Regions from separate parts of the Homo sapiens genome. Here all the other regions are linked to region 2. Evidence: fine-mapped expression QTL. A gene starts in region 2. Each other region holds a variant in brackets. All regions are shown on one strand. Distances are from middle to middle. Region 1 has its middle 46 kb from the start of FPR3. Region 2 holds the start of FPR3 (formyl peptide receptor 3). Region 3 holds the start of FPR2 (formyl peptide receptor 2).

Region 1 (10,780 bases), 47 kb after region 2:
ACTTTTAAATACATCTGTTCAATACAAAAATTGTGCTTGAAGAATAAAGTGATTTTTATGAACTGAAGTTAAAATTAATATTAATAAATTTTTTATTTTAACCAATATTTCAGAAAAGTTATGTTTTCACTGACATGGCCAGACATAACTGAAATCAGTATCTTTTTTTTTGAGACAGTCTTGCTCTGTTCCCCAGGCTGGAGTGCAATGGCACGATCTCGGCTCACTGCAACCTCCGCCTCCCTGGTTCAAGCAATTCTCCTGTCTCAGCCTCCTGAGTAGCTCGAATCACAGATGCCTGCCACCACGCCCAGCTAATTTTTGTATTTTTAGTAGAGATGGGGTTTCACCATGTTGGTCAGGCTGGTCTTGAACTACTGACCTCAGGTGATCCACCTGCCTTGGCCTCCCAAAGTGCTGGGATTACAGGCGTGAGCCACCGCACCCGACCTTGAAATCAATATCTTAAGTAATGTTTGGATCATGCAATTTTAAAGTGACACATACTTTACACATTAGTGGTTTTAAAAAGTTTTTCTCACATTGATGTCATGGCAATAAATGGAAGAAAAAAATACCTAGTTCTTGAAAACAATAATAAAAACCTTTGTTTCTAATGATTACTCATCATGTGGAAATTTGCAGTGAAACCAAAATGAAGCCAAGTAATTTAATTTCTACTCTTCAAAAATCTCTGTATGTAGTATTTCTGGAGTATCTGACTAGTATAATAAGGTTTTTTTGCCTTTATTGTCAGACACTTCATTAAATCTTAAGGTGGTAAAAACAGTGTGAAATCATCATAAAATCTTACCATTCAAATAAATGTACTTATGTTTTACACTTTTTGAAATAGATATTCTGACGGGGGTAAGATAATATCTCATTGTGGTTTTGATTTGCATTTCTCTGACGATTTGTGATGTTTGGCTTTTTTAATGTACCTGTTGGCCATTTCTATGTCTTCTTCTGAAAAACGTCTATTCATGTCCTTTGCTTACGTTTTAATGGAATTACCAGTTCTGTTGTTGTTTCCACACGAACATTTTCAGATGAACATTCATTGAGATTTTATTCATAAAAGTCAAACCTGGAAGTAACTCAGATGTCTGTCAACTGGTGAGTGGATACACTATAGCATATCTGTATGATGGAATGTTAGAGTTAAAAAGGAATTGCTAATAAATGCAACAACATTGTGAACAAAAGTTCCTGAAAAGGGCTGGGTGCAGTAGCTCACGCCTGTAATACCAGCACTTTGGGAGGCTGCGGCGGGTGGATCACCTGAGGTCAGGAGTTCAAGACCAGCATAGGCAACATGGTGAAATCCAGTCTCTACTAAAAATACAAAAATTATACGGGCATGGTGGCACGCACCTGTAATCCCAGCTACTTGGGAGGCAGAGGCAGGAGAACTGCTTGAACCCAGGAGGCAGAGGTTGCAGTGAGCCCAGAGGGCGCCACTGCACCCCAGCCTGGGTGACAGAGTGAGACTCTGTCTCAAAAAAAAAAAAAAAAGAAAAGAAAAGAAAAAATTATCTGAAAAGGAATGTGAAGGAAACAGACTTTATTCCAGCAAAAGGCTGCAAACTACAGAAACACAATCTTTGTTGTAAAATGAAGGTGTGTTCCAGGGAACAGAGGGAAGGCTCCGGTTTTAAAGCAAAAGTTTCTGCCCAGGTTCCCTATCACCTATGTTGCTATCACCTATGTTGATGCCAAGAAAGAGTGAAACTTACTTAGTTCTTATTGGTTAACACAGCTCAGTCCTGATTGGTTGATACAGCTGAGCGCTGATTGGCCAGGGAAGGTGAACTCTGATTGGTTGCTTCAGGTGAGCTCTGATTGGTTGGTTTCCAAGCCCCAAAATTAAAAGGTGTGAGTTTTGAGGGGACTTAGAGTACCTGTATGACCTCTAGACAGCAAATGGCTGGTAGGTTCTATTTTAAATTTAAGCCCAAGTAACCATACAGGATCCATCCCAAAAGACTGGCTCTTTCAAATTCACATTTGTTCACAACATGAATGCATCTCAAAAGCATTATGCTAAGTGCACAAAGTCAGACACAAAAAACTATCTCTTATATAATTCCATATGTGTGACGTTCTAGATTACAAATAACTATAGTAACAGAAATGAGGTGAGTGGCTGTCAGGGAACAGGAGGTGGGGAAAGGGGATCAATAATTGCAAAGGGGCACAAAAAAACTTTGGAGTCAATATAAATATCTATTTTCAGATGATGGTTACATGATAATATTTATAGTCCATTTTCATTTATAAGTATAGCTACAAAAATCCTAAATAAAATATTAGCAAACCATATCCCAAAATATATAGAAAAATATTGTACTATGACTAAGTTGCATTTATTACAGAAGTGCAAAGGAACTGATTTATGCCAACCACCTGACTGAGCTTGGAGCCAGCTTCTTCCCCCATCTTCAGATAAAAACCCAGCCCAGATGACACCTTGGTTTGATTTTGACCTTGAGATCCTATGCAGAACATTCAGCCAAACGCATTCAGATGCCTGACCTACAGAGCTATGAGCTAAAACATGAGTGTTGTTTCACACTGCTAAATTTGTAGTCATTTCTACATAGCAACAGAGAACAAATACAAATATTATAATACTATTTATAAAACTTAAAAATCTAAATATTGAGTTCTTTAGGTATCCACATATAAGTGCATATTTCTAAAAATCAAGGAAATCACATACACAATTCTAGATGGAAATTTTTAGCGGGGTGGGAGTATTGGAATGATTAGGCAAATACACGATTGATGCAAAGATGGGACAGAAATGAAAGACTGTCATTAGCATATTATCAAACATTACCTTTATTAAGCAAAAAAAGCCAATGGTTAAATATGCATTTAAATGTTTAATTAGAAACTAAATTATTCGTTGTGCACATGTACCCTAGAACTTAAAGTATAATAAAAAATTTTTTTTTAAAATAGCCATTCTCCCTGGTATAAGAGGGTTAAAAAAAGAAACTAAATTTTTATATTTATTATATAATTATATAAATATTTATATATAAGTATAAACATAAATATATATAAATTTATATTAAATTAAATAGAATTTAATTTTAAATTTAATTTAAAAGTTTAAATATGCGTTTAACCTGATCTGCTTTATGTATTTAAGAAAATGAAATATCCATACTATGCAGTTCAATTTAATAACATAGTACAAAAGATAAGTTTGGTATAGATGGTAAATTGTAGATGCTTTTACTATTACTGCCTGGTTTTTTATTTACAAGCATGTAACAATTTTTGTAATAAATAATTGTTGTAAGGAGATCTTTATTTAAAATCCTCAGAAGTTTTCAAATATGTACTCAAAGATAAATTCATATAGGAAAACGAACTATATGAAAGCAGAAAAGGAAAAGTTAATTAGATAATTAAAATTGCCACAGAAAGGTATATATTTGAATAATAATAAAAGAACATTTCTCAATTATCTACTATAAACCAGGCACTTTGCTAGCATTTCAGGCACACCATTCCAATAATCTTCAAAAGAAATTTGCAAAGGAGATACCATCATTTTTTCCTAACAGTAAAACTTACAGCATTTCAATACCTTGCCCAAAGTCATGCAGACAGTAAATAGCAAAATCGGCATAAAGAATCAGGACTAAAATGTTATTTCAAAGGATTCATCAAGAAATAAATTATGTTAGCCAGGCGTGGTTGAGCATGCCTTTAGTCCTAGTTACTCAGCAGGCCGAGACAGGAGGATCACTTGAGCCCAGGAGGTTGAGGCTGCAGTAAGCTATGATCACCCCTCTGCACTCCAGCCTGGGTGACAGAGCAAGACTCTTTCTCTAATGATTAAACATAATAATAATAAGAAGAAATTACACACACATACCCATACACATATACCAAGTATTTATGACACAATTTTAATAATTGCTGAATCTAGGTGATGGGTACACAGGTGACCACCATGTTGCTATTCCTTCAGTGTACTTGAAAGGTTTCAGTATGAAATGTTGGGAAATATGGTTGGGTACTTAGTACAGCACCCAAATCCCTGGCATCTGAAGCAATGAAGTACCTCCTTCCCCAGCCCTTCCCATCACCGATAGCCATAATGGCCCCCAACTCCGCATCGCTTGCTCGCTTTTCCTGGTTCCCCAGACACCGACTTCCACTCGACGCTGAGGATGCTCCAATCCAGACCACAGAAGCCCTCAGTGGCTAACCCCCAGCTTCAGATTCCACTGACCATTCCCTGAAGCCTTCTTACACCGCAAACCTCCACAAGTACCCCATGCTGGTCGCATCCGGTCAAGGACCCCAACAGCGCTGGGAAACTCACCCTACAGCTGGAGTCGCACAAACATTCGCTTGAGGACTAGCAGGTTTCCGTAACCTCTTCACTCACTGCCGTAGTCACGCTCTTGTGCAGACTCAGTAGCACCTTCGCGGAACACAAGATGTCTACAGACTTTGAAACCAGGCGTGCACATGGAAGCAGCAGTCTTGGAAGATGCTTCTTACAGATAGCGAGATGGCCATTTTCTGGCGACTAAATTCCATCGTGCTAGAAAGGAAAGAGGCAATGCAGCTGATCTTCTACTGTCCTTTTCACCACTTCCCCAGCTGCTACCAGCAGCGTTGTGCATTCTCAGGAACAACATTCAGCGTTCTCACCTGTCTACTTCAAATCTAGCAACAGCCCTAAGCCAATCACAGACAAGACCTAAGCAGAAGATGGCTGCACCTATTTAGCCCCATAGGCCCTTAAAGCAGCAGGTAAGGCGCAGCCATATTTGAAAAAGTTTTGGGATCTGTTGATCAAAGACTAGGCAGTGGAGCAAGGAAGTGGGAGCAGGCAGAGGGTGGATTCTGGGAATGTGTTTGTCGAGAGAAGTCTTAGGAAACCAGAATTGGGTCTGGAGGAGCTCAGGTAGTAAGGGGGAAGCCACCTGGGTACATTTGGGTGTGGGATTGTGGAGAGAGACCTTGAGGGGTAAGAACTGGGCCAAACTGGTTGTGGAGCAGACACTGACAACCACAACCCATTCCAAGAGAATATTAGTTGTACTTCAGAAAGATCATGTGTATTCTGAA[C/T]AGTCATGTGAAATAGATGTAAAAGTCATGAAGAAATTATTAGCAATCAAATCTAGCATTATATGAAAAGAATGAACTTCAAGATCAGGTTCCCAGGAATACAAGGATGTTTTATCCCTTAAAAATAAATACATGTAATGTATGGTGCCAGCCATGATTAAGTAAGCCCCCTAGTTTATCACTCCCACTGGTTAGAGTTAAAACTTTTGAAAAAAAACTAATAAAAACTACTTGAGAACTTTTAAAATGAATAATTGCAAAGAGATTGGAGAATAAAGTATAGAGTTGAAAACCAAGCAATGCACAGAGTAAGTTCCCTCATTTTTTTTCTGTCTATATCTCCTGCCTTTGACCTAAGGGTAAGACAAATTAGGAAATTGTTAGTCCAAACTGCACCATTTTGGAAGCCCCCCACCATTTCACAAAACCTGATCAAAGTGAAACATTCCACAGGGGGTTCGGGCTGTGAGAAACATCCTGCCTCTTATCATATTCTGCTGGGAGAAAGTGCAAGGAACACCACTTTCCGCGGGAATCGCCTCATCCTGGGAACATGTCCCCCCAGGCCCCTCTCACCCAGGCCTATAAATTGCCCCAGCCTATAAGCGGTGGGCACTGGCATTAGGCTGTTTCCTCACTTCTGCAGGTCTTATGCTGGACATAAAGCCTGCATTTGCTGTAGAGCCACCACTCCATGTCTTTCTTTAACCCTTGCCTTCCCTTCAAAACCTAACAGAAATTTCGCTGCTGAGGTGAAGAGCAAGGACACTAAGAAAAACCAGCCTTCATGGCCAGAAAACAGAGAAAATGAATCCACATGAGCCAAAAAGTGTGTTGTGGGGATCTCTATTTTATTTTATTTTTTCCGTTTTTCTAGTTTTTCTAGCATGGTCTTGCTAGTTCTACTGTTGAAACTGCACTGCCACAGTACTGGCAGTGACATGGACACCTAAAACTCAAGAAAAAAAATCTATAGATAGAAAATATTAGGCCCGATGCGGTGGCTCATGCCTGTAATCTCAGCACTTTGGGGGGCCAAGGCGGGTGGATCACCTGGGGTCAGGAGTTTGAGGCCAGGCTGGCCAACATGGTGAAACCTCATCTGTACTAAAAATACAAAAATTAGCCAGGCATGGTGGCAGGCACCTGTAATCCCACCTACTTGGGAGGCTGAGGCAGGAGAATCAGTTGAATCTTTCTGATGCCAATCATAAGCTTGCCACATTAGTTCTAGAGAATAACAAACAAAAAACAATGAATTCTACCATTATCATGAAATGGAGAGGGATGGAATCTCAAGTTCATATACAAGAAAAATTCAGAAAGTGATCTGCAGATACACAGTGTAAGTCTGAGACATTCAATAAAAGAAATATATAATAGGCTTGAAGGACACAGGTGTCATCAAACTTGGAAAAGATTCTAGGAATATTTGAAAGCATACTAGAAGAGGTCTATAAATATTGGTAGGAGGTGAAGGGTGGTTGTATCTAATAGGCTGCAAAAGAAAAGTGACTAAGCAAAAAGGCAAGGGCCAAATAGGCAAGAATCTCAACCAGAGGGAGAAAGAGAGGCACATCTCCTATGAGTCATACATAGAAATATAGTGCTATGGTCTGATGTGTCCCCCAAAACTCATCTGCTAGAAAGTTAATCCTCAGTGCAGCAGTGACAGGGAAGTGGGGCCTAATGGGAGGTGTCTAGGTCATGAGGGCTCCACCTCATGAGCAAGTTAATGCCATGATAAAAAGGCCTTGTGGGAGTGGGTTTGCTACTTTTTGCTCTCCTGCCATATGAGAACCCAACATTCATCCTTACTTGCCGTTCTATTATCTGCCATGTGAGGATGCTGCAAAAAGGCCCTCAGCAGATACCAGATACTGGTACCCTGATCTTGGACTTCCCAGCCTGCAGAACTGTGAGAAATAAATTTCAATTATTTATAAATTACCCTGTCTCAAGTATTTTGTTATAGCAGCACAAGTGGACTATGACAGATAGTAAGAGGAGGAGAAATTGTTCATATTGAAGACCTCTTTTCACTTATACTCTAAGTCACCCTTAAAGGTTCACAGACCATGAGAAAATGTATTAAAATAACAAGGGTGCCAACCCATCAATGGCCAACTAGTACTTTGGTTCCACTAACTCCCATCGCATTGGTTTCACTCACCTGGACTGCACCAACTTGGGAATTCTCTCTCTACTATTCCTTGTTCTTCTTTCCCCAACTGGAATATTGCTTCTGGCTTGGTAGCTTGACAACCTGTCAAGAGGTAATCACAGAGAATCTGAGCAGCATTAGAGCTTGTGAGAAAAAGTTCTGTTTCAGGAAATGCACAGTATACATCTCAGCAGAACAGAAACCTTTCATTTGGAAAGTGAAATTACATATGGTCACTGTACGATTATAAAGTAAAAAAAGTTCTAAAAGTCAAAGTCCAAAATCATTGAGGATATCAGAGTACCCACAAATTGTGGCAATAGAAAAAAAGGCAATTAATCGGCTTACAGTGAGATATTTAGGAAAGTTGTCTTTACCCAGTGACACTAGGTTGTTGTAATTTTCCAACATCACATCCTGGTAGAGGTTCTTCTGAACAGGGTCTAATAGATTCCACTCCTCCCAGGTGAAGTCAACAGCCACATCATTGAATGATGATAAACCCTATAATAACATAATCCTTTTAAATTCTGGAGTTAATATAATAAAATTCAGTCTATAAGACTCGTAGGACATTATTCTCTTTATCTTTACCACAAAGATTCACAAACGAAGATTTTCCTGTGCCTAGTTTTGGTTTGCACTTTGTGAGTGGAATACATTAAAAACTATCTTTTCTTTGTGCATTCTTCATTCACTTGTTTACTCTTTCATTCATTTGCCCGATGTAAAGTGTCTTTTAAACCTTTAAACTACCTAAAAACCATCTGTAACCCACCTTAGGAGCATTTAATGTAATTCATTATACATATTACAATAAAAACAATAAAGGTTAGTCCTTCCTTCAAGTGTTTCTGATCTTGCACAGAGTAGCAAATACAGTCCTATGCAGAAAGCCTATGTATTGCATGGTATTATGGATTAGCAAGGACTAAGACAGAAGTATGCTCAAGCTAATATGTGAGCACAATTAGGTAAGGCCATAATTGTTCTGAAGAGGTAGACAAGCTGGTAGCATGATTAGTAGTGCGTTCTAAAGGAAGAAGTGGAAGAAATGGGGGCTTCCTTGGAAGGGGGCAACATATGTATCTGTATTAAATACCATTCTGCGTTCAAAGAAATGCAAATAGTTCATTAAGACAGGAGAAGCTGAAGAGAAGAAATGCCCATTTGAAAAGCAGGAACATGTCTTGGAGCAAAGGGTACACATTTCCTTAAGATACTCGATAGCCACTACACTTTTTTTTTTTTTTTTTTTTTTACATAAGTAAGTTACGGTCAGAATTGCATTTTGGAAATTGTGCTACAAATTAAATGATGATACTCATAAAGAAAAACAGACTTCTTACTATGTGCTATGTATCATTCTACAAATTTTACATATATTAACATAATAATCTGCACAATAACCCTTGTTTAAGCACTATTATGTTCTTTTTATAAAGAAGAGATTTTAAGTTTCCTAGCTGTGCCTTTTATATCTCCCACATTTCCTTAAAGATTACTGTTCACTGGGTCCATATGCTGGCACACAAAAACTGAAGAGGAAGAGGAAGATCCATCAGAGACATTTCTTCACACTGGATGCCCAGGAAATATTTACTGATATCAACGATTTTATGTGCTTTCTCCTTCTGGACAAAGTAAATCTTGTAACTTTTAAAAATTCTCTTGTGATGGTTGTCAGTACTGCCACAAAAATGTTTGCAACTTAATTCTAGATCCTGCTACTTATATGGCAATTGTCTAATTATTAGCACCTTTCAGGACCCTACGACATGGAGATAGATCTCCCTTCCTAACTGGCTACTCTTGATCATTTATTCTGTCTCCTAGTCTAACCACATCCCTGCCAGCCAGAGTGTACTTATATTCATTTTTCTCTTTGATTACATATATGGTTATAAACTTCTAAAAATCTACTGGGAAGTAAATAAACACCTCACTTGGAACTTTGTCATGTTCAAGAGCTTTCAGAAGATGGCCAGTACTTTTAGTATCTGTTTGTCCTGCAATTCTGATAATGTCTCATCAAGGGTATCCTCAACAAAGATGAATTTCTGGACATGAGATATACTTTTTTCCTTTACAGGAGCTGCCTCATTCTAAGAAGTCAGCATCTATGAATTCAAACAAAAATGTGTTTTAAAGTAGAAATAATAAAGAGCAAGTCCGCGTAAATAAAAAGACTTTTCTTTTTAAAATTAATTCATTTCCTATACCTAACAAATAAAATTGTATGTATTTATCAGTACAATACGTTGTTTTGAAATAAGTATATACTGTGGAATGGCTAAATCAAACTAATTAACATATGTATTACTTCACATACTTGCCATATTTTTGTGGTGTGAACACTTGAAATCTATTCTCTTAAGCAATTTTCAAGAGTACAATACTTGGCCGGGCACGGTGGCTCACACCTGTAATCCCAGCACTTTGGGAGGCAGAGGCAGGCGGATCACCTGAGGTCGGAGTTTGAGACCAGCCTGATCAACATGGAGAAACCCGGTCACTACTAAAAATACCAAATTATCCGTGGTGGTGTATGCCTGTAATCCCAGCTACCCGGGAGGCTGAGGCAGGAGAATCGCTTGAACCCGGGAGGTGGAGGTTATGGTCAGCGAAGATTGCACCATTGCACTCCAACCTGGGCAACAAGAGCAAAACTCTGCCTCAAAAAAAAAAAGAAAAGAAATAATACAATACCTTGTTATTTACTACAGTCACCATGTTGTACAATAGATCTCTTAAACATAAAAGTTCATGTCTTATCTAACTGAAATTTTTTATTCTTTCACCAACATTTCCACAACCCTCTCCCTCCCCCAGCCTTGGTAACCACCATTCTACTCTCCATTTCTATGAATTCAATAATTTTAGATTTCACACATAAGTGAGATCATGCAATATTTGTCTTTCTCTGTGAGGCTTATTTCACTTAACATAATGTATTCCAAGTTCATCTATGTTGTCACCAAGTGACAGGATTTCCTTCTTTTTTGTGGCTCAAGAGTATTCCATTGTGTATATATGCCACGTTTTCTTCATTCATTGTTGTTGGACACCTAGGTTGATTACCTCTCTTGGCTATTGTGAATAACACTGCAATGAACATGGGAGTGCAGCTATATCTGCAAAGTGCTGATTTCATTTCCTTTCGATATGTGCCCAGTAGTAGGATTGCTGCATTATATGGTGGTTCTATTTTTTTTTTTTTGAGACAGAGTCTTGCTCTGTTGTCCAGGCTGGAGTGCAGTGGCACTGTCATGGCTGACTGCAGCCCCAACCTCCCAAGCTCAAGCAATCCTCCCACCTCAGCCTCCTGAGTAGTTGGGACTACATGTGTGTCCAGCTAATTAGTCCACCATGCCCAGCTAATTTTTTATTTCTAAAAACAAATAAATTTTTATTTGAGACCAGCCTGTATAACACAGTGAGTTCTTGTCTCTATAAGAAATAAAAGGTATACATTTGCATAATAATAGCTACCTTTTGTCAAGTATCTAT
Region 2 (10,780 bases):
AGATCATGCCACTGTATTCCAACCTGGTTGACAGATCAAGACTCCATCTAAAAAAAAAAAAAAAAAAAACAAAAAACCAAAACATAAGTAGGTTTTCTTTCTTGCTACGAAATGGCCCATGATTAACAAAAATGCCTAGAGGCAAGTAAACAGAATAAGAGTCTTAAAATGAACTTTCACTCCAATGGGGCAAAAATCATCTAAGGATCGTCTCAGTCAGACATGGGTGAGACTCAAAGTATGATTCATCCTGAGGCAAATTCCTCTTCAGCTGTAAGCCTGTTAAATCAGACAATTACGTGCTTTCGAAAATATAGTGGTGGGACAATCTAGGATTGACATTCCCATATCAAAAAGGAGAAATAGGAAGGAAGAAAGGGGAACCAGATCCTGAGGAAGTCCAAAACAATGTGGCAAATACATTTTAAGGCCTCAGTATAATGTTCTTTGACTCCATGTTCTGCTTTTTGGACACATTGGAGCTGGGGTTGGGCCACAACAGCTCTGGGCAGAACCACCATCATGGCTTTGCTGGGTGTAGCTGATGCAGCAGCTCTCAGGGGCTGAAGTCAGGTGCTGTAGCTCCCCAAGGGTGGTATTGCACACAGGTGGCTACACTGTTCTGAGGTCTCAGGGGCAGCCTCACCCCCAGGGTTCCACTGGACATTGCCCTAGTGGAGGCACTCTGTGGTGGCCCCATCCCCGCTGCTGTACTGGGCATTCTCTTAATGCCATCATATTGGGGGAGGGACTCTCTGTGGAGAGACAGAGAGTCTCTGGAGACAGCCCTCTCCCTGAGTTGCATGCCTGCGACTCCAGGTAGCACCTTCCTTCAAAATCTAAGGGGAGGCAGCCACAACCCCGCAGCTCATGCACTCTGTGCCCTGGTGGAGATGACACCACACAGATGTAGCCTTGGCTTACAGCCTGTGCCATCCAGAGAAGTGGCCTGAGCCGCAGTCTGGCGTGCTTGAGCCAAAGCTTGGAAGGCCAAGGAGTGCTATACTGGAATATGGGGAATACAATCTTGAAATTGTTTGCCGCCAAAACCTTGAAATTGTTTGCATTCTGTGCCTGTGATGGGCAGGGAAGATGTGAAGATCTGTGAGATGCCTTCAGAGTCATTCTTCCATTGTCTTGATGAATACTATCTGGCTTCTATCCATGCTAATCTCCGTATCAAATGTTCACTTACCCACACCATTGGTGTTCTCCCCTGAACATACTTTTGCACTTTTTACAGGCTGAGAATTTTCCAAATCTTTAGGTTCTACTTCCTTTTTGATTATAATTGCCTTTTTTTTTTTTTTTTTTTTGAGATGGAGTCTTACTCTATCACCCAGGCTGGGGTGCGCAGTGGCGCGATCTCGGCCCACTGCAAACTCTACCTCCCAGGTTCAAGCAATTCTCTTGCCTCAGCCTCTGAGTAGCTGGGATTACAGGTGTTCACCACCACACCCGGCTCATTTTTGTATTTTTAGTAGAGACAGAGTTTCACTATGTTGGCCAGGCTGGTCTCGATCTCCTGACCTCATGATCCACCTGCCTCGGTCTCCCAAAGTGCTGGGATTACAGGAGTGAGCCACCGTGCCTGGCCTATAATTGCCATTTTTTATGTAACTCTTTTCCTGCATTTTACTATAAGCAATCAAGAGAAGCCATGCCACACCCTCAATGCTTTGCTTAGATGTAACTTCCACCAAACATCTTATTCCATCACTCAGAAGTTCTACCTTCCACAAAGCACAAGGACACAGACACAATTCAGCCAAGTTCTTTGCCACTTTATAATGAGGCTGTCCTTTCCTACAGTTTCCAATAATATTTCTCATTTTCATCTGAGATCTCATCAGAATGACCTACTTCTACATTTCTACCAATACTCTGATCATTATTGCAATCTTCTTCTGAGCCTGTAGCAGAATCACCCTCAACGTTACATTCATGGAAATGTAGAGTTTTTTCTAGCACTCACAAACTCTTCCAGCCTCTCACATTACCCAGTTCCAAAGCCATTTCCACATTTTTAGGTATTTCTAATTATAATACCTCTACTTCTTGGTACAAATTAGTCTTTTAGCCCATTTGACCTGCTATAACAAAATCTATTAGAGTAAGTTATGATCCACATAAATTTATTACTCACAGTACTGGAGGATAGAAAAACCAACATTAAGGCTGGGCACAGTGGCTCATGCCACCATAATCTCAGCAGTTTGGGATCGCTTGAGGCCAGGAGTTTGAGAACAGCCTGGGCAACATGGCAAAATCCCATCTTTAACAGAAAAAAAAAAAAAAATTAGCCAGGCATGGTGGCACATTCCTGTAATCCCAGCTGCTTGAGAGGCTGAGGCACGAGAATCCCTTGAACTCAGGAGGTGGAGGTTGCAGTGAGACGAGATTGCACTGCTGCACTCCAGCCTGGGTGACAAAGCAAGACTTTCTCTCAAAAAAAAAAAGGAAAGAATAAAAAAAGAAAAACCAAGGTTAGGATGCCAACAGATTCCATGTCTGATGAGGGCCCATTACTCATAGACAGCGCCTTCCATATGTCCTCACATGGTGGAAGACAGACAAGCTCCCTCAAGGCTTTCTTACAAAGGCACTAATCCTATTTATGAGGGTGCAACCATCACGCTCTAATCTCCTCCCTATGGTCCCGCCTTTTAATACCATAACCTAGGGGGTTAGGATTTCCCATACAAATCTGGGGAGGGGAGAAACAAACATTCAGACTGTAGCAGATGCAGCAATAGTAACTTTAGGAATGTGGAATTTATAAAGAGCACTCATTCTTCCCCATTCCCCACAGCCATCCAGTCTCCAAGGCTGGTCTACTCAGCCTGGACAATCTGTCTCTAAGCTACGCCTCTTCTTGATCACACTATTCCTGCCCTGGGTAGCTCTTCAAGAACCTTACCTTGATTTCTGGCAACATTCTCCATTCTAATATCTCTGTCTCCAATTAGAAACATTCTCAAAGGCATCCCTTTGCAGGACTACAGAACAATATTTTTCAGAAGCACACACCTGACAAGTCACTGTCCTGCTTAAATGGTTATTCATGTTATTATGAAGAAATTCCAAGTCCTTCTTGTAGCATTCAGGACCCTCCAACAGATGGCTTCTGCCACTTGCTACACACTCAGTGTTTATTGCTGTCTGCCTCACCATCTATGCTCCAATAACCGCAGGTAACCTGCTATTTTTTGACCCTTTCCTGCGTGCTTTCACTCTCCTCTGCCTGGAATGTATTTTTTTTTGCTTCTTTATCTGAGTCTTTAAGATTCATCCCGGATGTTATCTGCATTGCACTTGGAAGTGACCCTGGACCCTGTCAGTCTCAGTTAGTTGTTCCTTTTGGGAAATCTCATAATGAACCAGGCATCTGTCTATCACTATATACCCCCACTCTACTGTGACTGCTTAGGGAAATGGCAGAGGACACCATTGTGCACAAAGGGTGCATAAGACTATGCTTAGTCACAGTAGAGTGACGCTGTCACCTCTTTACCTGGGTAGTCGGCATCTCCAGGGTAAGGCACATGTCTGTTTAAGCTCTATGTCTGCAGGAGCCAGCAAGGGAGCACCTCTTCAGAGGCCTCATGCAATACCCACCACCCTTTATTATACTGATAAGTAAATTCCATTTTAATCAGGTGGCAGGTAGCAATGTGCCACTGTCCTAGGAAAGCAATCATGATTGGCCTAAGCCAATATGAGCAACTTGTCTTTTTTTTTTTTTTTTTTTTTTTTGAGGTAAGGTATTGCTCATTGCCCAGGCTCGAGGGCAGTGGCATCATCATGGCTCACTGCAGCCTCAACTTCCCTGACAAAGCAGTCCTCCCACTTCACCTCCTGAGTAGCTGGAACTACAGGTCCACACCACCACACCCAGCTAATATTTTTTTGGTTTTAGAGATGGGGTCTCACTATGTTGCCCAGGCTGGTCTTGAACTCCTGAGCTCAAGCAATCTTCCTGTCTTGGCCTCCCCAAATTCTGGCATTACAGGCGTGAGCCACTGTCCCTGACCTTTATTTTTATGTATCGGTATTTTTGTTATTTCTTGGCCATTGATTGGTCTAGAGATGGCATGCTCTGGCAATGAAAGACAAGGAGAGGTCCTGAAGAGACTCTGGACAAGGTTTCCCTCTGTAATAAAATGGAAGAGGCATGTGAATGAGTCACATTTTCTGCCTGTCTCATGATTCTGGCTCGGGAGGGCCTGTTGATGCAATGTCCAGAACAGTGGCAGCCATTCTGTGGTCACTTTCAAGAAAGCCCTAGAAGAAAACCAATATGATGATGGAGTGGAAGGGTGACATTAAACTCAATTTTTGTTCAAACTCCAGATCTATCCCCTTCCAAAACTTTTTTTAATAATAAATTTCTCCATGGCTTATGTGCTTCATTGGTTTACTCTACCTTATCACTGAAAACATCCAGTGAATCAGAGAGAAAATAGAAAATAGTTGACTCTTGTTTTGTGGCTCTCCACTGTTTTTCATGGTTCTATTCCTTGGGCTTGAGAACAACATTCTGATGGTGTTTAAAAACTCAGAAAGAGCCCATCTCCTTAGATCAGTAGTCCATAGAGCATCTCCCTAGGGGCAGAAGGTTAGGGGGTTAATCTCGGCAATGGTGTGGAGTGTACAGTGTCTCTCATTTACCTTCCTTACCTCTCTACATGCTCCTAGTTACTGCTTCTCTTTGTAACTCTGAGGTATGAAATACCTCAAAGCATATTTGATTTTGTCACAGATTTCTGGCACAGGGCTCTTAAAACCCTTGGAATTCCCTGAGTGATAGGAGTATTATTTGTTATTCATAAACAGCCCCTTTTGATCATAGCTGAGTTTATGCTAAGGAGATCATGGCCTTAGGATGGGACTGGTCACCAGAAAGACCAAGGGATTAGAGGGTTGGAGCTGTCAGCCCCACCTACTGATCTCCAGGAAGGGGAGGCAGGGACTGGAGATTGAGTTCCATAAAAACTCTTGAACAATGAGATTTGATGAGCTTCCACATTGGTGAACACTCAGGAGTGCTGGGAGAGTGGCTGCCTGAAGAGAGCATGGAAGCTCCATGCACCACCCAACCCCTTCCCTGCCATATACCTGCCATATGCCTCTTTCCAATGGACTATTCCTGAGGTATATTCCTTATATAAAGCAACAGATGCAAACAAAGTGCTTTCCTGAGTTCTGTGTGCCATTCTAGCAATTTATTGGTGTCATTGGAACACCCAATTTATAGCCTGTCAGTCAGAAGTACAAGTAGCCACCTGGGACTTGCAACAGATGTCTGATCTGATCTGAGAACAGTTTGTGGGAGTGAGCCCTTTAGCTTTTCGGATCTGAGCTGAATCCAGGTAGACAGCATCATAACCGAATTTTTAATTGCAGGTGGCCCAGGTGGTGTCCCCAGAGAATTGGAGAATTTCTTGGTGTAGAGAAAAAGTATATTTGGTCAGAAGGATTGTGAAAGTAGAGAATCGAGTTTTTGTTTCACCGTGCATCTTTGTTTTTTTATTGTTTTTCCTCTCATTCTTCTCACCTTGGTAATTGTTTCTTTCATTTTCCTGAATCTCTGAAAAGAAAGGGCCTGGACTCTCAGATTTCTTGGCCTTTGATATTTGGAAGGATGAACTCCAGTCTCCCACAGAAGGCTAGAGGTGAAGGAACATTCAGACACATAAGTTTCCAAGATAAATCGTCTGAGAACATCTCCAAGGTGTCTTCTGGGAATGGTAAGAAACCCTGAGTTTGTGTCACTGGATTGATTCCAGCTCCATTGTCCCCGTGTCCTTCAACTAAGTCTCTGCTGAAGCCTGTTCTATAAAAACAGCAAGTAAGTGGTTTGGACTGACCTATTGTACTAGGTTCGACAAAGCAAACCAAATGGAGTCAGTCATACTAAAACTCCACATCACCAAACCAAAACTAATGTATCTGAACTTTTGAGAAATCAGGAGAGAGAGAAAATGGACAAATTCCTAAAACAGGCCAGTTTCAGTGGGCATGAACATGAAGTTCTGTCTGCTTTCATCTTTACAAAAAAAAAAAAAAAGCAATCTGTGGTAACTTGACTTCAATCAATCAGTTGTTCCTTATTGCTGTCTCTCTATTCCTGCTGCACAAAAAAAATGCAACATCCAGATGACCAATCAGGTTTTTGTTCTCTGTTTCTGCTTTCTTTAGCCCTCCTATCCCTGTAAAACCAACTTCCTTGGCTCTAACTATCAAAACACTCATTTTGTTTTATAGCATGACAGGCTGTCTGATTCCATCTTTATAACCAAAGCCAATTAAGATCTTAAAACCAAACATATAACTTCATCTTTTTACAAGTACTTAGAGCCTGAGTTGCTCCACAGGAATCCAGGAACTGGGCACAGGAAAAGGATCTAAGCTGGTGGTAAGTTGGGGTCTGAAAATTTTAAAGTTATTGTTGAAATGCCTGCTATATGACAGAGCCCTTCTAACTCTGGAGTAGCGTAGTCCAGTGAAGAATCCACTTCGTTAGTATGAAAACAATGTTAACTATTTCATTAACAGTGTTTAATTTGGTTACATGTTCCAGTAACATTCTTTTTTTTTTTTTTTTTTTTTTTTTTTTTGATGGAGTCTTGCGCTGTCACCCAGGCTGGAGTGCAGTGGCACAATCTCAGCCCACTGCAACCTCTGCCTCCCAGGTTCAAGCGATTCTCCTGCCTCAGCCTCCTGAGTAGCTGGGATTACAGGCACCTGCCACCACGCCTGGCTAATTTTTTGTATTTTTAGTAGAGACGGGGTTTCAATATGTTGGCCAGGCTGGTCTTCAACTCCTGACCTCGTGATCTGCCCACCTCGGCCTCCCAAAGTGCTGGGATTACAGGCGTGAGCCAATGTGACTGGCCAATTCTTTATCATATATGTAATTAAATAAAATTTATTACTAAAATAATTTCCCCAAAGGTGTTTTACTTTTTTAAAAACAGTGGCTACAAAAAAATTTTGAGTCCCATATGTAGCTAAAGTTAACACATTATATTTCTACTGGACATGTAGCATTGTAGAGATGTAGCATTGAAGGATCTTGATAGTCCTGTGGAGCTTACGTACTAGTGTGGAGGGTATTTAAGAGAGAAGATAAATGAACAAACAAATAAAGGAGAAAAGTATCTGGTGAGATAGGCTGTACCTGAGCATTCTGCTTTGCAGAGTGGGTGAGGTGGGATCTCTCTGAAATAATATTTGACCTGAAATATGAATATTCAGGATGAGCCAGGTGCAGGAAGCTCAAGACGAAGAGCACGGTAGGCAGAAGGAATAGAGAAAGCAGAAGCCCTGAGATGACAAAGAGCTGCAAGTTCAAGGAATTAGAGCCCAGTGGGTGGAGCCCAGTGTGTCTGATGAGAGTGCAGAGATGAGGTCTGAGGGATGCACAGGGCACATGTGGCAGTGGATAAGGGAACCTAGGATAAGGGAACCTAAGATAAGGGTAACTTAGAAGTCTGGAAGCCATCGGAAGGTATTGCGAATAACATCACCATCTTATTGGACCTTTTTAAAGCTCATTTGGTTTCTGTCTGGAGAATGGATCTTAGGGGAGGGGGCAGCAGGACCAGGAAAAAGCTATTTGCAAGGCTTGTGCAAATATCCAAGCCTGACAGGGCCATGGACACCGGTCGTGGAGATGGCAATGGCTCTGGCTGTGCATTCAGCATGTTCTGTAGATAGAATGAGTAAGACGTGGATGGCGTTGGGTGGTGAGGAAAAGAGAAATGAAAGGTGAGTTCTAGATCTGGAGCTTTAACAACTGAATATTTAATCTCCAAATAGATACAGAATATTGGAAGAGTGGCAGGTCTGGGAGGCAGAGAACATCAACAGTTTGGTAAAACCATGTGAGGTTTGGAGTCTATGGGACTCCCACGGGGAGAGGTTTTATCAGACTTGAGTGCCAGGGAGAGGCCACGGCTGATAATTTAGATGAAAAGACAGCATAATGGTTTAATCCCAGAGACTGGATGATATCATTTATAGAATGTGAGATACCCCAACATTTAGAGTCAAATTTAGAATAGAAAACACCGTAAATTGGACTAAAAAGAGGAAGAGAATCGAGCTGTAGAGACGACCAAGAGTGTATTGTGTGCACATATCTCTTGGATATATCTCATGGCATAGGAAAAATGTGTTTGAAAAGGGAGAAAGTGATCCAATGGGTCCTGTGTCATTGGGATATCAGGTCTTAAAAACTGAGAAGGACTCACTGGATTTGGCAGCCTGGGGGTCATAAGCATCCTTGGGAAAATGCATTAGGTGGAGTGCTAAGGACAGAAGTCAATGTGGAGTGGATTAAGGAGAACAGCTGAGGCGAAGAAGGAAAAGGAAGAATTAGAGACATTCTCTTTGGATGTTTGGCTGGAAATTCTGTCTTACAGACAGACCTTACAGAGAGGTCATTTGGCTAGATAGGGTTGAAGCTGGAAAGAAATATGCTTCAAAGGAGGTTTCTCTTGAAAGAGAGGGGGCGTGATTATGTGATAGAATGATCTAGTAGAAATACAATTTTCAATTTTTTTGGTATAAAAAATGATCTTTTATCCCTCACCACATCCCACCTCAATCTAAGTCTTAACTTTCTCGTCTGTACAATGGTTATACAAATTAAAACTAACATTAATCAATATTCACCGTGTCTCAGGGTGTGTTGAGTGCTTACACATATTAACACATCCCATCCACAGAGCCTATGAGAGGAGTTGTGAGGGTTAAGGGAGAAGCTCTTGGTGTGTGGATAATGTTCATAAGTAGAAGCTACTATTGCTATAAGCATCGTTCTTGTCCTGACCCTGAGCTTCATAGTGCAGGGTTCGGGATTGTACCCCACAACACAACACACAGCCTGGTGAGGGCTAAGAGTTCTAATTTGTTACAGATTTACCGACCTATCCTAGATGATTTCCATGTCTATTCTTTTTTTTTTTTTTTTTTTTTTTGAGACGGAGTCTCGCTCTGTTGCCAAGCTGGAGTGTAGTGGTGCAATCTCAGCTCACTGCAACCTCTGCCTCCTGGGTTCAAGCGATTCCCCCACCTCAGCCTCCAGTCCATGTCTATTCTATTTAATCCTCCCCTGAAAATCAGTCTTTATCAAAAAACCATTTCAGTTCTGCAGAGGGGAAAATGGGGGCTCAAAGAGATGTCACTGATCAAGAATTTACACCATCGAGGTGTCAGAGATAAGATCAGAGTAGAGATCTAACTGACTCCAAAGCCTGGTACTCTTTACACTGTTACAGTGACACCCAACTGGCAGGGGGAGGGGGTGGGAGGTATTTTGCCTCCCAGGGGATCTTTGACAATGTCTTTTGGTTGTCACTCCTGAATGGGGAGTTGCTACTGGCATCTCTGGATAGCGGCCAGGGGTGCCGCTAAACATCCTACTGTGTACAGAACAGTCCACCACAACAAAGAATTAACCAGCCCAAAATGCCATTGGTGTCAAAGCTGAGAAACCCTGAGCTACACTAAACAATGTCCCTGGGAAGACCTCAGTGAAAGTGACTGATAATGATAGGAAAAAAGAAGGAAATGAGTAAAAGAAATAGGAGAAAAAATTTATTATACGAGGGCAGGACCCTATCCTGGTAATTTTGGAAGAACGCCTTTCAATGGCAGCACTTGAGCGTGCAAAGGTAGTGGCTCTGTTCGGTCTGGTTTACAAATCTTCCTGTCTCCACTGACTGGCTAGGTATGATGCTGAAAAAACTACAGGAGTCCCTGGGCCATGGATTCTCCCTAGTAAAAAAGGGATGATGATGGCTGCCTCACAGTGTTATTATGAGTATTAGATGTAAACAAGTGCTACATAATTGCTATCATTCTTAAAGAGGCTAAATAGCCCAGGGTGGGAAGATTCTCAGATTTTCATGATCATAGAAAATTGCTGTAGCTTGGCTGGGCGTGGTGGCTCACACCTGTAATCCCAGCACTTTGGGAGGCCGAGGAGTTCGAGACAGCCTGGCCAACATGGTGAAACCCCATCTCTACTAAAAATACAAAAAATTAGCCGGGCGTGGTGGTGGTGCCCAGCTACTGGGGAGGCTGAGGCAGAAGAATTACTTGAACCCAGGAGGCGAAGGTTGCAGTGAGCCGAGATCACACCGCTGCAGTCCAGCTGGGTGACAGAGGAAAAAAGGGAACCATTCGGACATTTGCCCCTGAACTTGAAGTGCGCCACACCCCACTCCCACTGCCAGTTGCCACCCCCGTCAGCTCTCTTTCTGCCTGTCCTCTTGCTCCTCTGAGTGTGGCCTCCAGATGTCTCATGTACCTCCCGGGGTCTGTGAATACTAAAACCTCTCGAACTTTAACACTGTCGTCGCCTCATTGAAGCCGCACCCACAATCCAACCCACGATGTGAGGCTGCCCGAAAGCGACCTGGGCAGTTGGATCCCCTCTTGATGTTCTTTTGTCCTGACCTCTGGTGGCTGCTGAGGATGGTCACTAGCAGCTGAGTTGATAGAGAAACTTGAAGAGCTTCATTTAATACTACTGGCATAGCAGGCAGGCTTTTGGCTGTGTCTTGGACACAATCCCAATGTCTGTGTGTGTGGATGACTCACGCACTTCCTGCATCAGACAGCCCAGTCGGTCTGGCCCAGACGGCACTACTGCTTGCTGGTGCTCCATTTTGCTGCTTCGTGCAGCTTAGTACTGCTGTCCTCAGCAGTTAACTTGGAGATTCTCCAGAAATTCCAGTGACCGTGGACGGCTCTTTGAGGCTCCAGG
Region 3 (9,376 bases), 37 kb before region 2:
AATCCAAGTGTCCGGGCCCCTGCTCCCTCCAAGGGTCAAGGTAAAGAAAGCAGCAAGCACTGTGGTGAGAAGAATCAGAGGGAGGCAATGAAAGGAAGAGAAGAAGTCATGAGGGATGGAGACCAGAAACACAGAGAGAGGTAAGGGAGTGGGGGAAGTTGAGACAGTTGGCAGGACAGCGCGTCCACACCCATGCACACCACCAAGATTAACCCCATAATCCTCTGATCTTGTGGAAGCTCATTTGTAGTCTTCTAGCCCAAAGAAATAACCGTTTTTCTGAAATGTTAAGCATCCTTCCAAGGGTATCAGAGTGATATGGAGAAATATGGTAAGACAGTTACAGAATCAGAGATAACGACACTGATTCTAAAAGCATTATTACCAAGGCATTGTTGCATTAAGACTGTTTTTTCTTTTCTTTTAGAGACAGTATCCTGCTACGTTGCCCAGGCATGTCTCAGACCCCTGGGTTTAGTGATCCTCCTGCCTCAGCCTCCCCAAATGCTGGGATTACAGGCATGAGCCGGGCTGTTTTTAATTCTAAGTAATTTATAATTTACAATTACACCTAACAATGGCTTCAACAAGGGGTGTCCAATCTTTTGCCTTCCCTGGGCCACACTGGAAGAAGAAGAATTGTCTTGGGCCACACATAAAATACACTAACACTAACGATACCTGATGAGCTAAAAAAAAAAAAAAAAAAAAAAATCCCCCAAAAATCTGATAATGTTTTAAGAAAGTTTATGAATTTGTGTTGGGCTGCATTCAAAGCCATCTTAGGCCATGGGCTGGACAAGCTTAGCTTAGAACCAAGACGAAATTTATGGTTTACTTTACAAGAATTTTGCAAGAGGGTAATACTAGGTTAGGTTATATCTGGAAAATATCATCAAGAACTACATTCATTTTAATCTTTTCTCTTTTTTATCCCTAATATGGTGACTTTTTTTCCTGGGGATTGCCACTTCATGGCTCCAAGAAAGCTACCACAGCTCCTGACTTCACATTACAGCAGGGGTCCCCAACCTCCAGGCCATAGACCAATACACAGACCGATACCGGTCTGTGGCCTGTTAGGAAGTGGGCTGCACAGCAGGTGACTGGCAGGTGAGCAAGAGAAGCTTCATCTGTATTTATAGCCACTCCCCATTGCTGGCATTACTGCCTGAGCTCTGCCTCCTGTCAGATTAGTGGCGGCATTAGATTCTCATAACAGTGTGAACCCTACTGTGAACTGTGCATGCCAGGGATCTGGGTTGTGTGCTCCTTATGAGAATCTAATGCCTGATGATCTGTCACTGTCTCCCATCACTCCCAGATGGGACTGTCTAGTTGCGGGAAAGCAAGCTCAGGGCTCCCACGGATTCTACATCATTGTGAGTTGTATAATTATTTCATTGTGTATTACAATGTAATAATAATAATAGAAATAAAGTCTACAATAAATGCAATGTGCTTAAATCATCCTGAAACCATCTACCCCGCCACCCCATGGAGAAATTGTTTTTTATGAAACTGGTCCCTGGTGCCAAAAATGTTGGGGACTGCTACACTCCAGCATCCCACACCAGGAGGATGGGGATGAGATGGAGAATCACTGAAGATCTTTAATCAGAAGGGTGATATGTTCATTTGTACTTTATAAACATTTGTGTTTGTATTTTATAAACATTTTCTTGGGATCATAACAACAGATGCATTTTAGAAGATTCCCAAGGTATGAAGGGTAACAAATGAAGACGTGCCTAGGAGTCACATGGAAGCCAACACTTTGTAAGGGGATTAAAATAAAGGGAATGGCAGAGGACATCATTATGCACAGAGGAGAAGGGCCCAAATGTCAAGAGAAAACAAGAGACAAGGGACTCCACAGAGAGTAATTGCCAGAAAAATTTGTAGGTCTTTTGAAGTCTGACTGTTCTTCCTAAAACGGGGGTCCTGGGACACCCCTACCTGTTTCCCATGAGCCCTCTTTTCTAAAACATAAGTAGGTTTTCTTCCTGGCTACCAAATGGCCTGTGATTAGCACACTAGGTTGGGCAAAAATAGAGCCAAGTGTGTGTTCCAAAGTGACTATGGTGAAGAAAAAAGCGAAAGTCTTAAAATGGACTTCCACTTCTGTGTTTGCGTAAGGCTAAAAGGGAAGATGTCTTAGGGTTGACCGGAATGGGAGTATTCCTGCCTATGCTGCAAAAGTCCCTGACTCTTCTGGTAACTGAAACATGAGAAATGGCCTCGGCGAGCAGCACAGCCTCCCAGTAAAGCACTGGACTGAGGTGGTAAAGCCAGATTGCCTGGACTAGAATCCCAGGACTACTGTTCACTAGCTCCGGACAAGCCAGCTAATCCAGGGGTCTCAAACATTTCCCCCAACTTTTTTTTTTTGAGACAGAGTCTCACTGTGTCACCCAGGCTGGAGTACGGTGGTGTGATCTTGGCTCACTGCAGTTTTGCCTCCTAGGTTCAAGTGATTCCCCTGCCTCAGCCTCTCCAGTAGCTGGGATTACAGGTGCCCGCCACCACGCCTGGCTAATTTTTGTATTTTTTAAGTAGAGATATGGTTTTGCCACGTTGACCAGGCTGGTCTTGAACTCCTGACCTCAAACAATCAC[T/C]TGCCTTGGCCTCCCAAAGTGCTGGGATTACAGGACGGAACCACTGCACTGGGCCACAAACATTTCCTATGAAGAGCCAGATGGTCAATATATTTCATTTGGCAGGCCATAGGGTCTCCATCACAACTCCTTGGCTCTGCTGTTGTAGCCTGAAAACAGCCACAAGCAAAGTTGTAAATGAGGAGCATGACTGTATGTCAATAAAACTTTATTTAAAACACGACAATTGGACTTCATATAAGTTTTGCATGGCACAAAATACCCTTCATTTGATTTTCTTTAGCCGGTAAGAAATATTAAAGCCATTCTTGGCTCTCAGGCCATACAAAAACAAGCGGTGGCTAGATTTGACCCCTGATTTAACTGCACTGGGTCCCAGACACTTCACCTGTGAATTGAGAGCAATGATACTTACAGAGGTGTTTTCTGGAGCAGAACAAATAAGATCAGTGATACAAAGCACTTGGCATGAATTCCAGTGCAATAAGTATTATCAATATCTTAGTAATTACATAAACCTCTCTATCTGCTGTTTCACGTTCTCTGCGGTGAACCCATCCATGCTTAAAACTTGAACCACACCTCAGCTAACATTCACCAGACCCCTGTCTCTAGCTCAGACCTGCCCTTGATGTTCAGACACATCATTTTGGGTTCCTGTTTCCTTTCAAACTCATCTGCAGCCTTTGCTCTCCTCACCTTCTCCCACAACTCTGTTAAGGACTAAATTGTGTCACATTCCCCTTCAAATTCTTAGGTTGAAGCCCTCACCCCATGATATGGTTTGGCTGTGTCCCAACCCTGATCTCATCTTGAATTGTAGCTCCCATAATTCCCACGTGTTGTGGGAGGAACCAGGTGGGAGATAGTTGTTTCATGGGGACGATTTCCCCCATAATGTTCTCATGGTAGTGAATATGTCTCACGAGATCTGACGATTTTATGAGGGGTTTCCCCTTTCACTTGGTTCTCATTCTCTTTTGCCTGCTGCCATGTAAGATGTCCCTTTGTTCTTCCTTCGCCTTCCGCAATGATTGCGAGGCCTCCCCAGCCACATGGAACTGTGAGTCCATTAAACCTCTTCCCTTTATAAATTACCCAGTCTTGGGTATGTCATTATTAGCAGCATGAGAATTGACCAATACACCCCAGCATGTCAGAATGTGACTGTATTTGGGGATACAACCTTTAAAGAGGTAATTAGCTGAAACTGAGGTCATTAGGGTGGGCCCCAACTCAATATGACTGATATCCTTATGAAAAGAGGAGATCCAGACACAGACAGGCATAGAGGGAAAACTGTGTGAAAACATGAGGAGGAGGCGGTATCTGCAAGCCAAGGAGAGAGGACTCAGGAGGAATCAACCCTGCTGACACCTTGATCTTAAACTTCCAGCTGATAAAACTGTGAGAAAATATATTTCTATTGTTGTAGCCACCCAGCCAATGGTATTTTGTTATGGCAGCTCTAACAAACTAAACACTCTGCTTCTTTTCATTGACTCTCGTCTCAATGACAGCCCCCAAATCCACGCAGTTACCTTGGTGCAACAGTTCTGAAGAAAATGGCCACAATATTCTTGGACACTCCTTCCACTGACAGGAAGGCAGGCATATTGTATCGCCTCTCCCCTGGAACCTGGGTAGGGTTGGGACTACTTTGACCAAAGAACGTGGTAGAAATGACTTCCACGTAGCTTTCAAGGCTAGGTCAAAAAAGGCTAGGAAGCATCTTCTGGTTCTCCTGGGACACGTGTTCTGGAGGAAGGCAGCCATTGTCCTGGGACTTTGATTCCTCTGAGACCACCATGCTGGAAAGGCTGCCTGTAGGCACTTGGTGCAATACCAGCCTAGTTCAGCATTTGAGTCATTCCAACCCAGGCATCTGACATGTGAATGAAGGAGCTCTAGATGACTCCAATTCACAGTCTTCTAGTCACCCCCCAGACCTTTGAGTTTTGGGTGGCAGAGACAAGCATCTCTGTGCCTTATCCTAATTCCCAACCCACATAATCCATGAACGTAATGAAATGGTTGTTTTACATGCTATGATTTGGGTGGTTATACAGCAATTATGAATTATGAATGTGGGCTTCATAAAGACCCTTCATGCTTCCTCATTCTCCAGAGCCATTTGGTCTCCAAGCTCAGTCTACCAAGCCTGGAAATCTCTCCCTAAACTACACCTCCTCTCTAGCACACTACTCCAGCACAGGCAATTATTCGACAAGTTCACCTTGATCTCTGGCAACTTCTTACCCTTTAAGATCTCTGCCTCCAACTGGGAGCATTCTCAGAGCCATCCCTTTGCAGGGGGACTCTAGAGCAATGTTTTCTGGAAGCACACACCTGACAAGTCACTCTCCTGCTTAAATAGCTTTTAAGCAGAAGAAATTGTAAGAAAGAAATTTTTTTTTAGACCAATATCCTTGATGAACATTGCTGCAAAAATCCTCAATAAAATACTGACAAACCAAATCCAGCAGCACATCAAAAAGCTTATCCACCACGACCAAGTGGGCTTCATCCCTGGGATGCAAGGCTGGTTCAATATACGCAAATCAATAAATGTAATCCAGCATATAAACAGAACCAAAGACAAAAACCACATGATTATCTCAATAGATGCAGAAAAGGCCTTTGACAAAATTCAACAACCCTTCATGCTAAAAACTCTCAATAAATTGGGTATTGATGGGACGTATCTCAAAATAATAAGAGCTATCTATGACAAACCCACAGCCAATATCATACTGAATGGGCAAAAACTAGAAGCATTCCCTTTGAAAACTGGCACAAGACAGGGATGTCCTCTCTCACCACTCCTATTCAACATAGTGTTAGAAGTTCTGGCCAGGGCAATTAGGCAGGAGAAGGAAATAAAGGGTATTCAATTAGGAAAAGAGGAAGTCAAATTGTCCCTGTCTGCAGATGACATGATGGTATATCTAGAAAACCCCATTGTCTCAGCCCAAAATCTCCTTAAGCTGATAAGCAACTTCAGCAAAGTCTCAGGATACAAAATCAATGTACAAAAATCACAAGCATTCTTATACACCAATAACAGACAAACAGAGAGCCAAATCATGAGTGAACTCTCATTCACAATTGCTTCAAAGAGAATAAAATACTTAGGAATCCAACTTACAAGGGACGTGAAGGACCTCTTCAAGGAGAACTACAAACCACTGCTCAATGAAATAAAAGAGGACACAAACAAATGGAAGAACATTCCATGCTCATGGGTAGGAAGAATCAATATCGTGAAAATGGCCATACTGCCCAAGGTAATTTACAGATTCACTGCCATCCCCATCAAGCTACCAATGACTTTCTTCACAGAATTGGAAAAAACTACTTTAAAGTTCATATGGAACCAAAAAAGAGCCCGCATTGCCAAGTCAATCCTAAGCCAAAAGAACAAAGCTGGAGGCATCACGCTACCTGACTTCAAACTATACTACAAGGCTACAGTAACCAAAACAGCATGGTACTGGTACCAAAACAGAGATATAGATCAATGGAACAGAACAGAGCCCTCAGAAATAACGCCGCATATCTACAACTATCTGATCTTTGACAAACCTGAGAAAAACAAGCAATGGGGAAAGGATTCCCTATTTAATAAATGGTGCTGGGAAAACTGGCTAGCCATATGTAGAAAGCTGAAACTGGATCCCTTCCTTACACCTTATACAAAAATTAATTCAAGATGGATTAAAGACTTAAATGTTAGACCTAAAACCATAAAAACCCTAGAAGAAAACCTAGGCATTACCATTCAGGACATAGGCATGGGCAAGGACTTCATGTCTAAAACACCAAAAGCAATGGCAACAAAAGCCAAAATTGACAAATGGGATCTAATTAAACTAAAGAGCTTCTGCACAGCAAAAGAAACTACCATCAGAGTGAACAGGCAACCTACAAAATGGGAAAAAGTTTTCACAACCTACTCATCTGACAAACGGCTAATATCCAGAATCTACAATGAACTCAAACAAATTTACAAGAAAAAAACAAAAAACTCTATCAAAAAGTGGGCAAAGGATATGAACAGACACTTCTCAAAAGAAGACATTTATGCAGCCAAAAGACACATGAAAAAATGCTCATCATCACTGGCCATCAGAGAAATGCAAATCAAAACCACAATGAGATACCATCTCACACCAGTTAGAATGGCAATCATTAAAAAGTCAGGAAAAAACAGGTGCTGGAAAGGGGAGAAATAGGAACACTTTTACACTGTTGGTGGGACTGTAAACTAGTTCAACCATTGTGGAAGTCAGTGTGGTGATTCCTCAGGGATCTAGAACTAGAAATACCATTTGACCCAGCCATCCCATTACTGGGTATATACCCAAAGGACTATAAATCATGCTGCTGTAAAGACACATGCACACGTATGTTTATTGCAGCACTATTCACAATAGCAAAGACTTGGAACCAACCCAAATGTCCAACAATGATAGACTGGATTAAGAAAATGTGGCACATATACACCATGGAATACTATGCAGCCATAAAAAATGATGAGTTCATGTCCTTTGTAGGGACATGGATGAAATTGGAAATCATCATTCTCAGTAAACTATCACAAGGACAAAAAACCAAACACCGCATGTTCTCACTCATAGATGGGAATTGAACAATGAGGAAACATGGACACAGGAAGGGGAACATCACACTCTGGGGACTGTTGTGGGGTGGGGGGAGGGGGGAGGGATAGCATTGGGAGATATACCTAATGCTAAATGACGAGTTAATGGGTGCAGCACACCAGCATGGCACATGTATACATATGTAACTAACCTGCACATTGTGCACATGTACCCTAAAACTTAAAGTATAATAATAAAAATATATATATATATAAGAAAGAAATTTTAAGAAGAAATTCTAAGTTCTTTTTACAGCATTCAAGACCAACCAAGAAATTGCCTCTGCCGCCCTCTACATACTTAATGCTTATTGCTGTCTGCCTTATCATCTATGCTCTGGTAAACAAAAGTAACCTGCTTTTTTGTGACCCCTTTCGTGGGTATTTTTACTCCCCTCTGACAAGAATGCATTATTTTTTCTCCTTTATCTGAGTCTTTAAGACTCAGCCTACATGTTCCCTCCTCCGGATATTGACTCTAGATCCGTGAATCTGAGTTAGTGGTTCCTTTTAGAGGACCTCACAAGGAGCCAGGCATCTGTCTATCACTACGTGCCCCCACCCTATTGTAACTAAGCACTGCATTCTCACCTCTCTATTCAGGTGGTCCGCAGAGCCCATGTCTGATTGATCTCTATGTCTCCAGCAGCCAGCAAGGAAGCACCTCTTTAGAGACCTGCACCTATACAATACCTACCACCTTTTATTTCTCGATATGTGAACTCCATTGAGAACAAACGAGTAAATGTAGGTAATGTGCCTTCTTCTTTTCTTTTCTTTTCTTTTTTTTTTTAGATGGAGTCTCGCTCTGTTGCCCAGGCTGGAGTTTAGTGGCACAATCTCGGCTCACTGTAACCTCCGCCTCCCAGGTTCAAGCGATTCTGCCGCCTCAGCCTACCAAGTAGTTGGGATTACAGGTGCCCACCACCACGCCCAGCTAATTTTTTTTGTATTTTTAGTAGAGGTGGGGTTTCATGATGTTGGCTAGGATGGTTTTCAACTCCTGACCTCAAGTGATCCACCCACCTCGGCCTCCCAAAGTGCTAGGATTACAGGTGTGAGCCACAGCGCCCAGCCAGTAATGTGCCTTCTTAAGTTCTGTGAGCCATTCTAACAAATTATCAGAACAGAGGAAGGGGTTATAAACATCCCCCCACCCCCGATTTATAGCCAGTCAGTCAGAAGTACAGGTGGCCACCTGGGACTTGGATTGGTGTCTGAAGTGAGGACAGTTTTGGGAGAGTGAGCCCTTTAACTTGTGGGATCTGACACTAACTCCAGGTAGACAGCGTCGGAGCTGAATTGAATTGTGAGATACCCAGTGGTGTCCCCAGAGAACTGGAGAATTGCTTGATATGGAAAAGACCCACACATTTGATGCCAGAAGTACTGCATAAGTCGAGAATTGAGTTTGACTTAATCATCATATTTGGGCTTGATTGCGTGGCTGAAACTCTTCCCACTTCAGTAATTGTTTCTTTCATTTTCATGAAACTCTGAAGAAGGAAGGGCTGGACATTCAGATTCCTTGACCCTTGACATTTGGAAGCATGAACTCCAGTCTCTCACAGAAGGCTAGAGGTGAAGGAACATTCAGACACATTGGTTTCTAAGAAGAGTCCGCTGACAACATACCCAAGGTGTCTTCTGAAAATTATAAGAAATCCTGAGTTTCTGTTAGGGGATTGGCTCCAGCTCCATTGTCCCTCCCCCATCATTCAGTAGTCTCCGCGAAAGCCCTTAGAGCCGGTGTTGCTCCACAGGAAGCCAAGAAGCACACAGGAAAAGGAGCTTAGCTGCTGGTAAGTTGGGGACTGACAATTTAAAATTTATCAATGGAACTCCTGCTCTCTGACAAACACCTCCTAAATTCTAGAGCAGTGCTGTAATGGAGCATCCACTTGCCACAGGTGGCTTTTGAGTGCCTATGTTTCTATCTTGATCTGAAATGTGCTTAAGTGTAAAATATACTTAGTGTAGTTTAATCATTAGTATGATCAAAATAATACAATTTATCTCGTTAATAACTTTCATTTTGGTAACGTGTTCCAATGATTTTTTTTATTTGCGGGGTTAAATGAAACATATTATTATA

What was found. PIP is the estimated chance that this variant, and not a neighbour inherited with it, causes the effect.
Region 1: its variant is the best candidate, but not a certain one, in a credible set for the expression of FPR3 in whole blood (TOPMed, PIP 0.58).
Region 3: its variant is the best candidate, but not a certain one, in a credible set for the expression of FPR3 in whole blood (INTERVAL, PIP 0.67).

The regions. Positions count from the first base shown.
Region 1 is chr19:51,835,542-51,846,321 of GRCh38, forward strand. It overlaps a transcript of ZNF577 not described here. Among named protein-coding and RNA genes, the nearest start is that of FPR3, 46 kb to the left of the region's middle. The variant C/T (reference allele first, on the strand shown) is at 5,107.
Region 2 is chr19:51,788,914-51,799,693 of GRCh38, forward strand. It overlaps FPR3 (formyl peptide receptor 3), which reads left to right and starts at 6,244. Exons shown (of 2, transcript NM_002030.5): 1 at 6,244-6,418.
Region 3 is chr19:51,752,148-51,761,523 of GRCh38, forward strand. It overlaps FPR2 (formyl peptide receptor 2), which reads left to right and starts at 9,033. Exons shown (of 2, transcript NM_001005738.2): 1 at 9,033-9,083. The variant T/C (reference allele first, on the strand shown) is at 2,619.